Homo sapiens: one gene and its partners. The protein of the gene in region 3 purifies or fractionates together with the protein of the main gene of each other region. This does not show direct contact. Each region holds a gene or a part of one and is shown on either strand. Other genes may lie near its edges. The genes, in order: NADK, CREB3L2 and RALGPS2.

The links.
Region 1: the proteins of RALGPS2 (region 3) and NADK purify together in Homo sapiens (affinity purification with mass spectrometry, with the first as the bait; one large-scale study listed by BioGRID). This does not show direct contact.
Region 2: the proteins of RALGPS2 (region 3) and CREB3L2 purify together in Homo sapiens (co-immunoprecipitation; one large-scale study listed by IntAct). This does not show direct contact.

The regions. Positions count from the first base shown.
Region 1 is NC_000001.11:1,761,425-1,765,070, forward strand, and holds part of NADK (NAD kinase), read right to left. Parts: intron 612-3,646; coding exon 528-611; exon of another isoform or gene 469-527; coding exon of another isoform or gene 467-468; intron 1-466.
Region 2 is NC_000007.14:137,883,514-137,887,159, forward strand, and holds part of CREB3L2 (cyclic AMP-responsive element-binding protein 3-like protein 2), read right to left. Parts: intron 1,990-3,646; coding exon 1,890-1,989; intron 1,609-1,889; coding exon 1,482-1,608; intron 1-1,481. UniProt on the Homo sapiens protein: Transcription factor involved in unfolded protein response (UPR).
Region 3 is NC_000001.11:178,723,615-178,727,360, reverse strand, and holds the start of RALGPS2 (ras-specific guanine nucleotide-releasing factor RalGPS2), read right to left. Parts: upstream 2,118-3,746; 5' UTR 1,942-2,117; exon of another isoform or gene 1,077-1,941; intron 616-1,076; exon of another isoform or gene 1-615. UniProt on the Homo sapiens protein: Guanine nucleotide exchange factor for the small GTPase RALA. May be involved in cytoskeletal organization. May also be involved in the stimulation of transcription in a Ras-independent fashion.

The DNA of each region.
Region 1 (3,646 bases), about 180 Mb from region 3:
CTGGATTATAATTCTTTACACATAAAACACAGATATCAGATCGATCACTGTTGCGTTTTTCCCATGACACTATGACGGGCCTCCAGGCAGAATGTGTTGACAAACTGAACCATCAAATAGCAAACGCAACCCACCCCAGAATTCTCACTCACTCTTAAAGAAACAAAAAGGCAGCCCTGAGGATCTCATGTGGAAGCCGCCACACCCACGGGCTGTGACCCGGTCTCCAGGCCCCGGCTCGCCTGCCGTCCACTTTCTCAAAGCCACTGGAAAAGCCACAGCTGGGGAGCCCCCGCTCGGATGCCTGCACTCAGGGGGTTCAGGGAGGACGCCCATGTGGCTTTTTGTTTAAATGACCTAAACATGTACTTCTCACATGAAGTGCTAGAATCTTCCTCAACACAGCGATCCCACAACTCCACACACATCCCGAGGACTCCCCCATCCCATGGCCCCCGGCACTCACATGATGGTCTAGGGGTTCTCTCCCTTCCAAGAACCCCCCGTCCTGGGGCCCCAGCACTCACATGATGGTCTGGGGGTTCTGCAGCACACAGGCCTTTGGTCCAAAAGTGGTCACCGGGCATGGCCCATGAAGAGAGCGTGTCCTCCTGTGGGGAGAGGGCAGTGTCAGAGCCACCAGGGCCTGAAACCAGACATGCAGTGACAGACACAGATACAGAGGAGGTTACACGGTAAGGCATACATGCAATTTGAAAGATGCCAACTCCATCTGCCCAGCAGCCACACAATAGCCCTTGGAAGGTTCTGCCCAGGTCCATGGCTGCACTGGAGCGGCACCTGTGAGGAGCACGCATGCCCACGCGCCGCTCAGATCATGACCCAAGCCGGGGAGAGCTTCAGCCCAAACAAGGAAAATGCCAGGGCCAGGGCCAGCCTGGGATCAGAATTCCTCAGTGTCTCCAGGACCCCTCTCTAGATCTGCATTTGGGACTCAAAACCTGAGACAACATCTCATCTCTAAATCGTCTAGATTAAAATTCTAGCACAAATGTTCACTCTGAACTCATGTCAATAAAAAAGACGTAGGCCGGGCGCAGTGGCTCACACTTGTAATCTCAGCACTTCAGGAGGCTGAGGTGGGTGGATCACGTGAGGTCAGGAGTTTGAGACCAGCCTGGCCAACATGGTGAAACCCCCATCCTTACTAAAAAAAGAAAAATTAGCCAGGCCTGGTGGCGTGTGCCTGCAGTCCGAGCTACTCAGGAGGCTGAGGCAAGAGAACTGCTTGAACCCAGGAGGTGGTGGTTGCAGTGAGCCGAGATCGAGCCACTGTACTCCAGCCTGGCTGAAAAAAGTGAAACTCTGTCTCAAAATGAATGAATGAATGAATGAATGAATGAATGAATAAAAGACGCCAGATGAACGGCTCAACAACTTTCCTAGTGATTTAAACATGGCCAGGTCACAGTTAAATCACCCAGCCAGGGGCTGTGGCAGCCGCACGCGTCCTGGGGAGAATGCTGTCAGGACCGCTGTGCTCCTCAGGGTCCAGCACTGAGGCTGCCCTCGTCCTAGGTGCCCGGGAGCCTCCCAGTCCCTTCACAAACTCAGAAAACTTGCACACAGCTGGCCAGGCAACGGCCCAACAAAATCCTCAAGTCCCAATGCAGAAGAACGGCCTTCCGCTGCCTCGCAGGGCCAGACAACCCCAGGAGAGCCGTGGTGCCCTGAGGGCTGCTCCACAGGTGACACAGGCGTGGCCATCAGTGGTCACGGACTTGTTTACCTCAGCCTTTTAAAAATTGGTAAGTACAGGCCGGGTGCAGTGACTCACGCCTGTAATCCCAGCACTTTGGGAGGCCAAGGCAGGCGGATCACGAGGCAGGAGATTGAGACCATCCTGGCTAACACGGTGAAACCCTGTCTCTACACAAAAATACAAAAAATTAGCCGGGCGTTGTGGCTCACGCCTGTAATCCCAGCACTTTGGGAGGCTGAGGTGGGCGGATCACCTCAAGTCAGGTGTTCGAGACCAGCCTGGCCAACATGGTGAAATCCCATCTCTACTAAAAATACAAAAATTAGACAGGCGTGGTGGCATATGCCTGTAATCCCAGCTACTCAGGAGGCTGAGGCAGGAGAATCACTTGAACTCGGGAGGCAGAGCTTGCAGTGAGCCTAGATCACACCACTGCACTCCAGCCTGGGCGACAGAGCAAGACTCCATCTCAAAAAAAAAAAAAAAAAGAAGAAGAAAACGAAGTACATTACAAAAGAATTTTACTTACTTACGAACTGAAAAGATTATTGCGGAAAACAATGTTTCTCGAAGTGGGTGTTGGGATTTAATGTTTCCTTCCCAAGGACAGGCTATGCTTGGGCGTATTTGGCTACCTCCTCCCCCACCTCACCCTGAAGGCGCCTGTCACTCACTATGGAGGCGACCTCTGACCCAGGGCTGCTGTCATCAGGTTCAGAATGCAACAGAAATGGTGCATTATGCCAAAGAACCCACAGGAAAAAAAAATAAAACCCCAAAGCAATTCTGTTCACGCAGTCACTGCGCTGGGGTGGCCTGGAGGTACAGGACAACGACCCCCACTGACAACGAGGCAACGAGGCATCTGAGAAAGGCTGAGTGGTGACGTGGTGCCTGCGGGATGAAGGCAGCCACCAGCGCTCGTAGCCTCCTGGCTCAGGCAGCGACTCTGTAGACAGAAAACGTGGGAGTAGCCTGTTTCTCCACGGCTGCCACCACGTCAGAGGCGCTACAGGCTCTCCCATCTCACTGGGTAAGACAACATGCTTTCTAAGACTACTTTTCACCAAAAAGCCCCCCTTGCATTTGATAGTCGTGATCCTTGTTAGGCAGCGCCGGCTCTGGCAAGCTTCCACCTAAAACTCACCACATTTACCATCACCAGAACCGAGAGCACCATCCCCAGGCACCATCACAGCTGTGCTTGTGCGGCCACCGTCATGCAAAGCCCGGGGCGCTGTTGCCCAAGCAGCATTGTGCAAGGGTGAGCGCTGTGGGCACTCTTGGCACAGGAGGGAGCCACTTGCCCAACATGTGAGAGGGCTGGGCCCGCCCAAGGCCACGCTCATAACTCTGCCTCCACCAGCCCTGCTCACAGTGCAGAACCCCCCAGCCTTCGCCTCTCAAAACAAGCAGAGCCAAGAGGGATGTCCCCTCACACCCCAGTGACTTCTGTAGAGCAAATGTTTCCAGGCCAGGCACAGTGGCTTGCACCGGTAATCCCAGCACTTTGGGAGGCTGAGACGGGCAGATCACCTGACGTCAGGGGTTCAAGACCAGCCTGGCCAACATGGTGAAACCCCGTCTCTACAAAAATACAAAAATTAGCCGGGCATGGTGGTGCACGCCTGTAATCCCAGCTTCTTGGGAGGATGAGGCAGGAGAATCACTTGAACCTGGGAGGCGGAGGTTGCAGTGAGCCAAGATTGCGCCACTGCACTCCAGCTTGGGGGACAGAGCGAGACTCAGTCTCAAAAAAAAGTTTCCTCTCCAAGTGCGCTTCAGTCTAACATCAAGGGTCAGCGTAGGCGCCAGTTAGATGGTTCTGTGCTGATACAGACAGATAGAGAAACACGGTGGCACCCTGTGCCTGTGCTGGCACCTGGGAACGTGCGCCAGGCAGGTGTCCATGGGCCAGGATCC
Region 2 (3,646 bases), on a different chromosome or scaffold from region 3:
TGCCTTTTCCTATACATATGTACTTATGATAAAGTTTGATTTAGAAATTAGGCCCAGTAAGAAATTAACAATAATAATAAAATAGAACAATTCTAACCATATCTTCTAATAAAAGTTACATGAATGTGGCCTCTCTCTCTCAAAATTTCTTATGGTGGTGTACTCAGCTATTTTCAGATAACTGCAGGTATTTTTATTGGCTGCAGGTAGTGTTTCTTACTATAGTGTATTCAGCTATTTTAAGGTAACTGCAGGTATGTTCATTGGCTACAGGTAACTGAAAGCTTAGAATACAAAACCTCAGATAAGGGGGGACTACTGTACTGCCTAACCCCATGCTCATTCCTATAGGTGTAGGTGTGAATTTGTGTGTGTATTCCTTACTCACCATCCCTTTATTTCTAGGTGAGAACACCATACGCTTCTTATCTGACACCGGAGTCCCCATATTCTCTAGATCTTGGGCATAAGGTTTTGGAAGGCAGGCTGATTCTTTTTGTTTGTTTGTTTGAGATGGAGTCTTGCTCTGCCGCCCAGGCTGGGGTGCAGTGGCACGATCTCGGCTCACTGCAACCTCCGCCTCCCAGGTTCACGCCACTCTCCTGCCTCAGCCTCCCAAGTAGCTGGGACTATAGGTGCATGCACCACCATGCCCAGCTAATTTTTGTATTTTTAGTAGAGACGGGGTTTCAGCATATTGGCCAGGCTGGTCTTGAACTCCTCACCTTGCTGATTCTTTTTTTTTTTTTTTTTGATGGAGTCTCGCTCTGTCGTCTAGGCTGGAGTGCAGTGGTGCGATCTCGGCTCACTGCAAACTCCGCCTCCCAGGTTCACAATATTCTCCTGCCTCAGCCTCCCCAGTAGCTGGGACTACAGGTACCTGCCACCACGCCCGGCTAATTTTTTTGTATTTTTTAGTGGCGATGGGGTTTCACAGTGTTAGCCAGGATAGTCTCAATCTCCTGACCTCGTGATCTGCCCGCCTCGGCCTCCCAAAGTGCTGGGGTTACAGGCGTGAGCCACCACGCCCGGCCCTGACCTTGCTGTTTATTTAATTTCACTTTACAAGCCCTTACTATATACATTGCATTACATTACTCATACAATTCCACTCAGTGGAGGCAGAAACACAGCAGTTCTCTTAAAACGTCACAGAAAGCGACAGACTCTTTCCCTCATCTGCTTCCCTCTCCCTTATCAGAACTCAAAAATTAGATGTCAGAATGGATCAGGGAACACAGTCTAGAACAGCAGTTTGCAAACTGTGCTCTGTCAAGCTCTGGAGAATTCCCAGTGATGCCGCAGTCCAGTGGATGAGGGGCCCCAGGGGAACCCCCACTTGCCTCTTCAAAGGGAGAAGCTCCACTTTTACCACTTTTTAAACATTGGACTTTCACAGAAGATTCCTTTTGGAAGACTGAGAAACCCAGCTCTAGGGAAATAAAACAAGACCCTGCCCAACTTGCCACATGCTGTCTTACCCACGGAGGCTGTGTAGGGCTCCTGCAGGGAATGCTGGCTGGGCAGAGCCATCTTGGTGGCAGAAGGATAGGGCCCGTAGCCTTGAAAGAAGCTGCCGAATGCAACGGCAAAGCACAGCACCACAACCTGTGGGAGAGAAAGAGGGGAGAGAGAACACGAGGGGCTGTGGACTTCAGCCTCTGGACAGCACAGCTTTATACCCAGGGACACAGACTCTCCTCTTCAGGCCAGTGGACTGCACCCACCAGTCACATCACCAGAGTGCCTCACCGAGGAACAGCCTCAGAGTGGAGTTCCTCCATGTGGTTTCTCCTACAGCACAGCACTTGGCCTTGGCAAGTGGAGGGAGAGGGGAGACAGGGGCCAGGCCAGGGGCGGTCACTGTGCTACCCTGCTGGGAAGCTCACCATGAGGCAGGTGCCAGTCTGCGTGCCAGCTAACTTGCAGGTTCGAGAAACCTTGCCCATCACCAAAGTCTGAAGCTTCTGGAGTTGCTGAAGGAGAGTCCTGCCAATGATAACAACAGCCGTGAGGGGAGTCTGACAGAGAAGAGATGCTTTTTGATCTCTCCATGTGACCCAAGAAGGCCGCCGTGCCTTTGTGCCTGCATTTCAACAGAGCCCCAAGGGACAGTTTCCTCTGGAAGAAGATACGAACACCAGTACCTTCTAGCACCATTGTCACAGAGCTCACTGGGGCTCAGAATCAGCCTTCACACTTGAAAGTCCTGTTCTTGCACTGCCCTGAGTTAGAGGTAACTGCCTCCACATTACCCCTGACAGGCTGTGGCTTGTTTCTCAGCGATTGAGAACAAAGGAAAAGGAACACTCTGATTGGATGGTGGCTAAAGTCAGAATGGTTGTGTCTCTCCTAAATTCCTATGCTAAAACCCAGTCCTCTATGTGACGGTATTAGGATGCAGCACCTTTGGGAGATGATTAAGTCATAAATGGAGCCCTCATTGATGGGATTCGTGCCCTTATAAGGAGCTGAAAAGACTAGAGTGCTTCCCTTCCACTATGAGAGGACACAGCAAGAAGCTGCTTTTTGTGAACCAGAAAGCAGGCCCTCGCCCAACACGGAATCTCCCAACACTTTTATCTTGGACTTCCCAGCCTCCAGAACTGTAAGAGATCAATTTCTGTTGTTTGTAAGTGACCTCGTTTATTACATTTTGTTATAGCAACCTGAACAGACTAAGAAAATGTCGATTAAAAGAAGAACTCATTTAAGCAAGAGATGAGAAACATTGACAAAAACATAAAAAAGGGACAAAGGCAAAGAGAAGGAAAAATAAAAAATGACCAGCAGAGAACAACAGAAGGAGTGGCCAGAGGTGGGGGCTGTGACTGGAAATGCCAACAGAGAGTAACAGGCATTCACAGGCAGGTTAGAAGAGAGAGAGAAAGGCCAGAGGTGGGGGCTGTGACTGGAAATGCCAACACAGAGTAACAGGCATTCACAGGCAGGTTAGAAGAGAGAGAGAGAAAGGAGAGGAAAAACAAGAACGGCTCTGTTTAAGGCAGAGAGGCAAACAGCCACCTGCAGCTCAAGCCTGTGGTTCTTAAACGCTCACAGCACCTCCAGAGTCAGGAAACGAAGCCAACATATGAAAGAACAAAGATGCCTGCTCAACTGGACCCTCAAGCCCAGAGTCAAGGGTCTTTAAAACCATCCTTTGAAACAGATTCTAGCCTTTCTCCAGGAAAAAGACAAGAGAGCAAGAGCAGAAAAAAAAAAAGGAGACGTTTTATCCCTAAAATTGGACAACTGTGCCTCTCCTTAAAAGGCAAAGTTTGAGGGATAAGAACAGTCTTATATACTCTGCTCTGTGTGACATCAGCACACAGAGCAGATGGTAAAATTCTTTGCAAATTCTGAACACTGCAAGGCATAGAAAAGGATCTGACAACACACCCTCCTGAGTTAGAGCACCCGGGAAGAGTTCCCTGTGAGTGGTGTAAAGAGTTGAAGCTCCTCCTCATCCTCATCCCCCACCCCCAAACCCAGTGCATATGGCAAAGTGGAAAGATTTTATGAGCAGATGCTTTCTCTTGGGTCTCAAGGATTCTCGGAAAATGTGTGCTGTGATGTAACAATGTTAGACAGCCACATAAGTTCACTGGAAAACATCATCAAATCATTTGTTCACAGAATGCTGTGG
Region 3 (3,746 bases):
ACGCACAGTGGCGCATGCCTGTAGTCCCAGCTTCTTGGGAGCCTGACACGGGAGGATCGCTTGAGCTCAGGAGTCTGAGACCAGCCTGAGCCAAATAAGGAGAACCTATCTTAAAAGGAAAAAAAAAAAAGTGGAATATAATGGGAAAAACGCACATCTTACCGTTCAAAAATTATGCTGAATTTTAAAAAGAAAAAATGAACTACGCTTAAAATAAATACACTGAAATTGTTTATCCCAAATGGCATTAATGCCCTTACATTTTGATATTTAGATCTGCCTCAAAAGACCTTTGAAGCTACATGATAAACTTCATGCCTACAAAGCTTGAGTTAGAGGTTATCTTTGTTAAAATAATACTGTTTGGATGCTCAGTTTTGGAAGTTTCCTCATAATTCTAAATTAAGATATTTAGCCGTAAGAGTAATACACTTATGTGTATGATTCTATAGCACTTGTTCTATAGCACTTGTACAAGCATAATGATCTTGAGTGGAACAGGCTTTATAATGAGCAAGCTATGATCTGTCTAACAGCGATACTCTGCAAACACGGGCTGAAAAGTTTCCTAAAATTCTGATGGTCATCTTCAAAGAAACTTGAACAGGAATCGATCTAATGGTGGACACAGAAAAATACCCAAGTCAACTCATGAACACTGGTAAGAAAAGGCTCTCTATAGCAACTAAAGTGTTGGGGAAAAAAAATCCAGGGAGCATAAACGATAAAGCTCAATTAACTGCTGCTTGTGTGATTCCACTTTATGGTCTTAAATACACAGTAGGCATTAGATATTTCTTTTGGGGTTTTTTTTTTTTAACAGAAATTTAGTATTTCAATTGCCCCTCCTCCACAGCTAACATCAGTGCCCTTTCTTCCTCCTCCCTTACCCCTCCCAACTCAAACAAATTAACATTTGTACTAGGTACCTCCTATCAGCTCGCAGCTTCTTCCCAAACACGCCCACGTACACTGAAACTGGCTTGCGTCTACACAACACACAGCTACAGGAAAAGAGCTTCGAGGGGGGAGCTGGGGCGGGGGGTTAATAATTCGCTCCGCACAGGTTTACGGCTATTTTCCAGAAACTAGTTCCTCGCTCGTGGCTCGCGTTTCTTCCAAATCACCTCAAAAGCACGGTGTTTATGAGCCTACCTAATCCGATACTGCAATGGAATTCCGGATATTTGCAGACAGATCTCCCGGCTTTGCAAGTGTTTGATGAGATACGTTCGGAATCTCCTTTTTTTTCTAGAGCCCGGTTCCAGGCCGTAGAGCAAGCCGACCTGGGGCTGCGGCCCCTGCCCCACACCCGGCCCGCGCGCCCGGCCCGAGGCCAGCACAGGACGCAGCCCCTCCGGGGCCGGGGCTGGCGGGGGCCGCTCGGGCTGCGGGCCGCTCTGCAACAGGTCACCCTGACCGCGACTCCGCGGGTTCGCGGGCGGCCAACTCTGCGGCCAGGCTTCTGGGCGCAGCCGCCAGGGCCAGGGGAGGGGGTGTGGCCCGGCTTCTGCTGGTCCTGGCTCCGAGGTCCGGGATCGGGCTCACCTGAAGGAAGACTGAGGCGCCGCTGGGCGCCAGAACAGAGCGGGCGGAGGCTGGGGGCTTCCGCCACCCAAGAGGGAGAGCGAGGCGGGTTCAAGGGGTCGCAGCGCCCCCGGCTTCAGGACGGCGCCCCCGAGCGGGGACCCCACGGCCGCTCCGACTCTGAGAACCCGCGGCCGAGGGAGGCGCGCCGCCCAGCGCCCTTCTCCCTCAGCCTCAGCCCCAGCTCCGCAGCCCCCTCCCTGCGCGCAGGGCGAGCAGCCCCGGGGCCCGCGGCCGGGAGAGCCACACTCCGCAGCGCCGCCGCCGCCATTCCCCGCGCCGCCCGGGGGGCGCCGCGTACCCACCCTCCCTCCCTCCCTCCCCCGCACCGCCCCGCGGCCTGAGCCCACCGACCTGTGCAGCCGCGGCCGTCGCCTCAGAGGACGGAAAGACGATGCCGGCCTCACGCTTCACCGCCACGGCCGCCGCCGCCTAGAGTAGCACTCGTCGACCCGAACAGTCACCGTCTCTCATTCAGCGCCCGCAGCAGCCGCCGCCGCCGCCGCCGCTGCCGCTCGGGGGAGGAGAGTGAGCTGGAACCACCCCGTCCGCGCCAGGGGTGGGGGACGAGAGCGGACCTGGCGGGGGCGCGCGCCAAGCGGGCGGGGCGGAGCCGCGCGCGCGCGCGCACCAACGGAGCGCGCTCGCGGGGGCTCTGAGAGCTGCAGCCGTCAGGGTCTTAACCTCGCGCTTCCCGCCCGCAGCTTTTCGGCCCCGCGGAGCCCAACTGCCGCCGGTGATCGGTGCCCGCAGCGCGCGCAGCCATCCGCAACCCCACCGCCCGGCGCCTGCTGAAAGGAGGGGCTCCCACCGGCCAAACAACGGGGGGGGGAAGGGGTAGGAGGATGGACAGGTGGGGCGTCCGCCACCGCCTGGCCACCCGCTCCCGGAACGCGGCCCTCTGTGAAATCCGCCGTGATGTCTGTGGCCTTCAGCGCCGGGCTCTTCACCTTTAAGGCCAGAGAACAAAGTCTGGAAGCACTTGGCCCCAAGATCAAATATCCAGCCCACGCCAGCGGTGTTTTTAGAAGTCACTGAGGACAAATGAGGGGGCTCCCAATGTGGAGAGTCACCCCACTGTCTTAGATAAGGTCATAAATTATGGTGATCAACATCCTCACACATTAAGATTCGGGAAGTGTTAGAAGTAGGCCTTTGTAAGATGTTACGCAGGGTACTACCCTTGACTTAAGGAGCAAATGACAGAAATTGGGCGGAAAGGTGTTGTTTCAGAGTCTACTAAATGGGTGGCCTACTTAAAGCTAGCACCATTTGATGCAGTGTGACTGTTAACGGAAGGTTTTAAGTGAGCCGCCTTTGTATCTGCTGTCATTAGACCATTTGGAAATGGATAATTATTTGATGATCTGCAGTTCTTTCTCTAGGCAATGTGCAGTAGAATGTGGAAAGAATACTATGTACCAGCATTAAGTGTAAAACATGAAAGGACCAATAATTCACTATTCCCATTTGGTTTCTTTCTTCCCTTTAATAACCGCTAAACAGAACTGATTAATCTTGAACGTTGAAGATTGCTAATTATTTCCTCCTTTGATTGCCTTCTGTCATAGCCCTTTTACTCTAGTTGGGGACGCTAGAATGCCCTTCAACCTCCTTCTCTCAAATAGGGTTACTTTAAAGCACCCCAACGCAAAGTTAAGTCAAAAAGAAAAACAGCGAGGATAGGCAACAAAGTTCGTAGTGTTTCATTTTTATTCCATTTTACTTTCAAAGAAAGTCTTGAATCATGACGAAATCACTAGAAGAAGTAGAGCAATCAAAAGAAGAAAAAAAGCGTTCCCCCCCACCCAATATTTCAAATGACAAGAGTCCAAAAAAGAAAAGAAAAAGGAAGATGATTGGTAAAAAGGAGGGAAGTGCATTATGTATACAGAAAGTTTTCGCATAGATGTTAGTTGCTTCAAGTCCCAAATAAACAACAACTAAATGAATTAGCACTTGGAGGAAAAACCCCTTCCAGTTATTGAGTTGGGTAAATGTTTAGTCTTCTTAAAGTGTTACTAAGAGATTAAGGAAAATGTCGTTGGCTATATGCCAACAATAATACATGCAACATACATACCATTATCACACATAATTAACTGCTCTTAAGAAATATGAAAACTGAGGAACGGAACTCTTATGTTGTTAAATGTCAT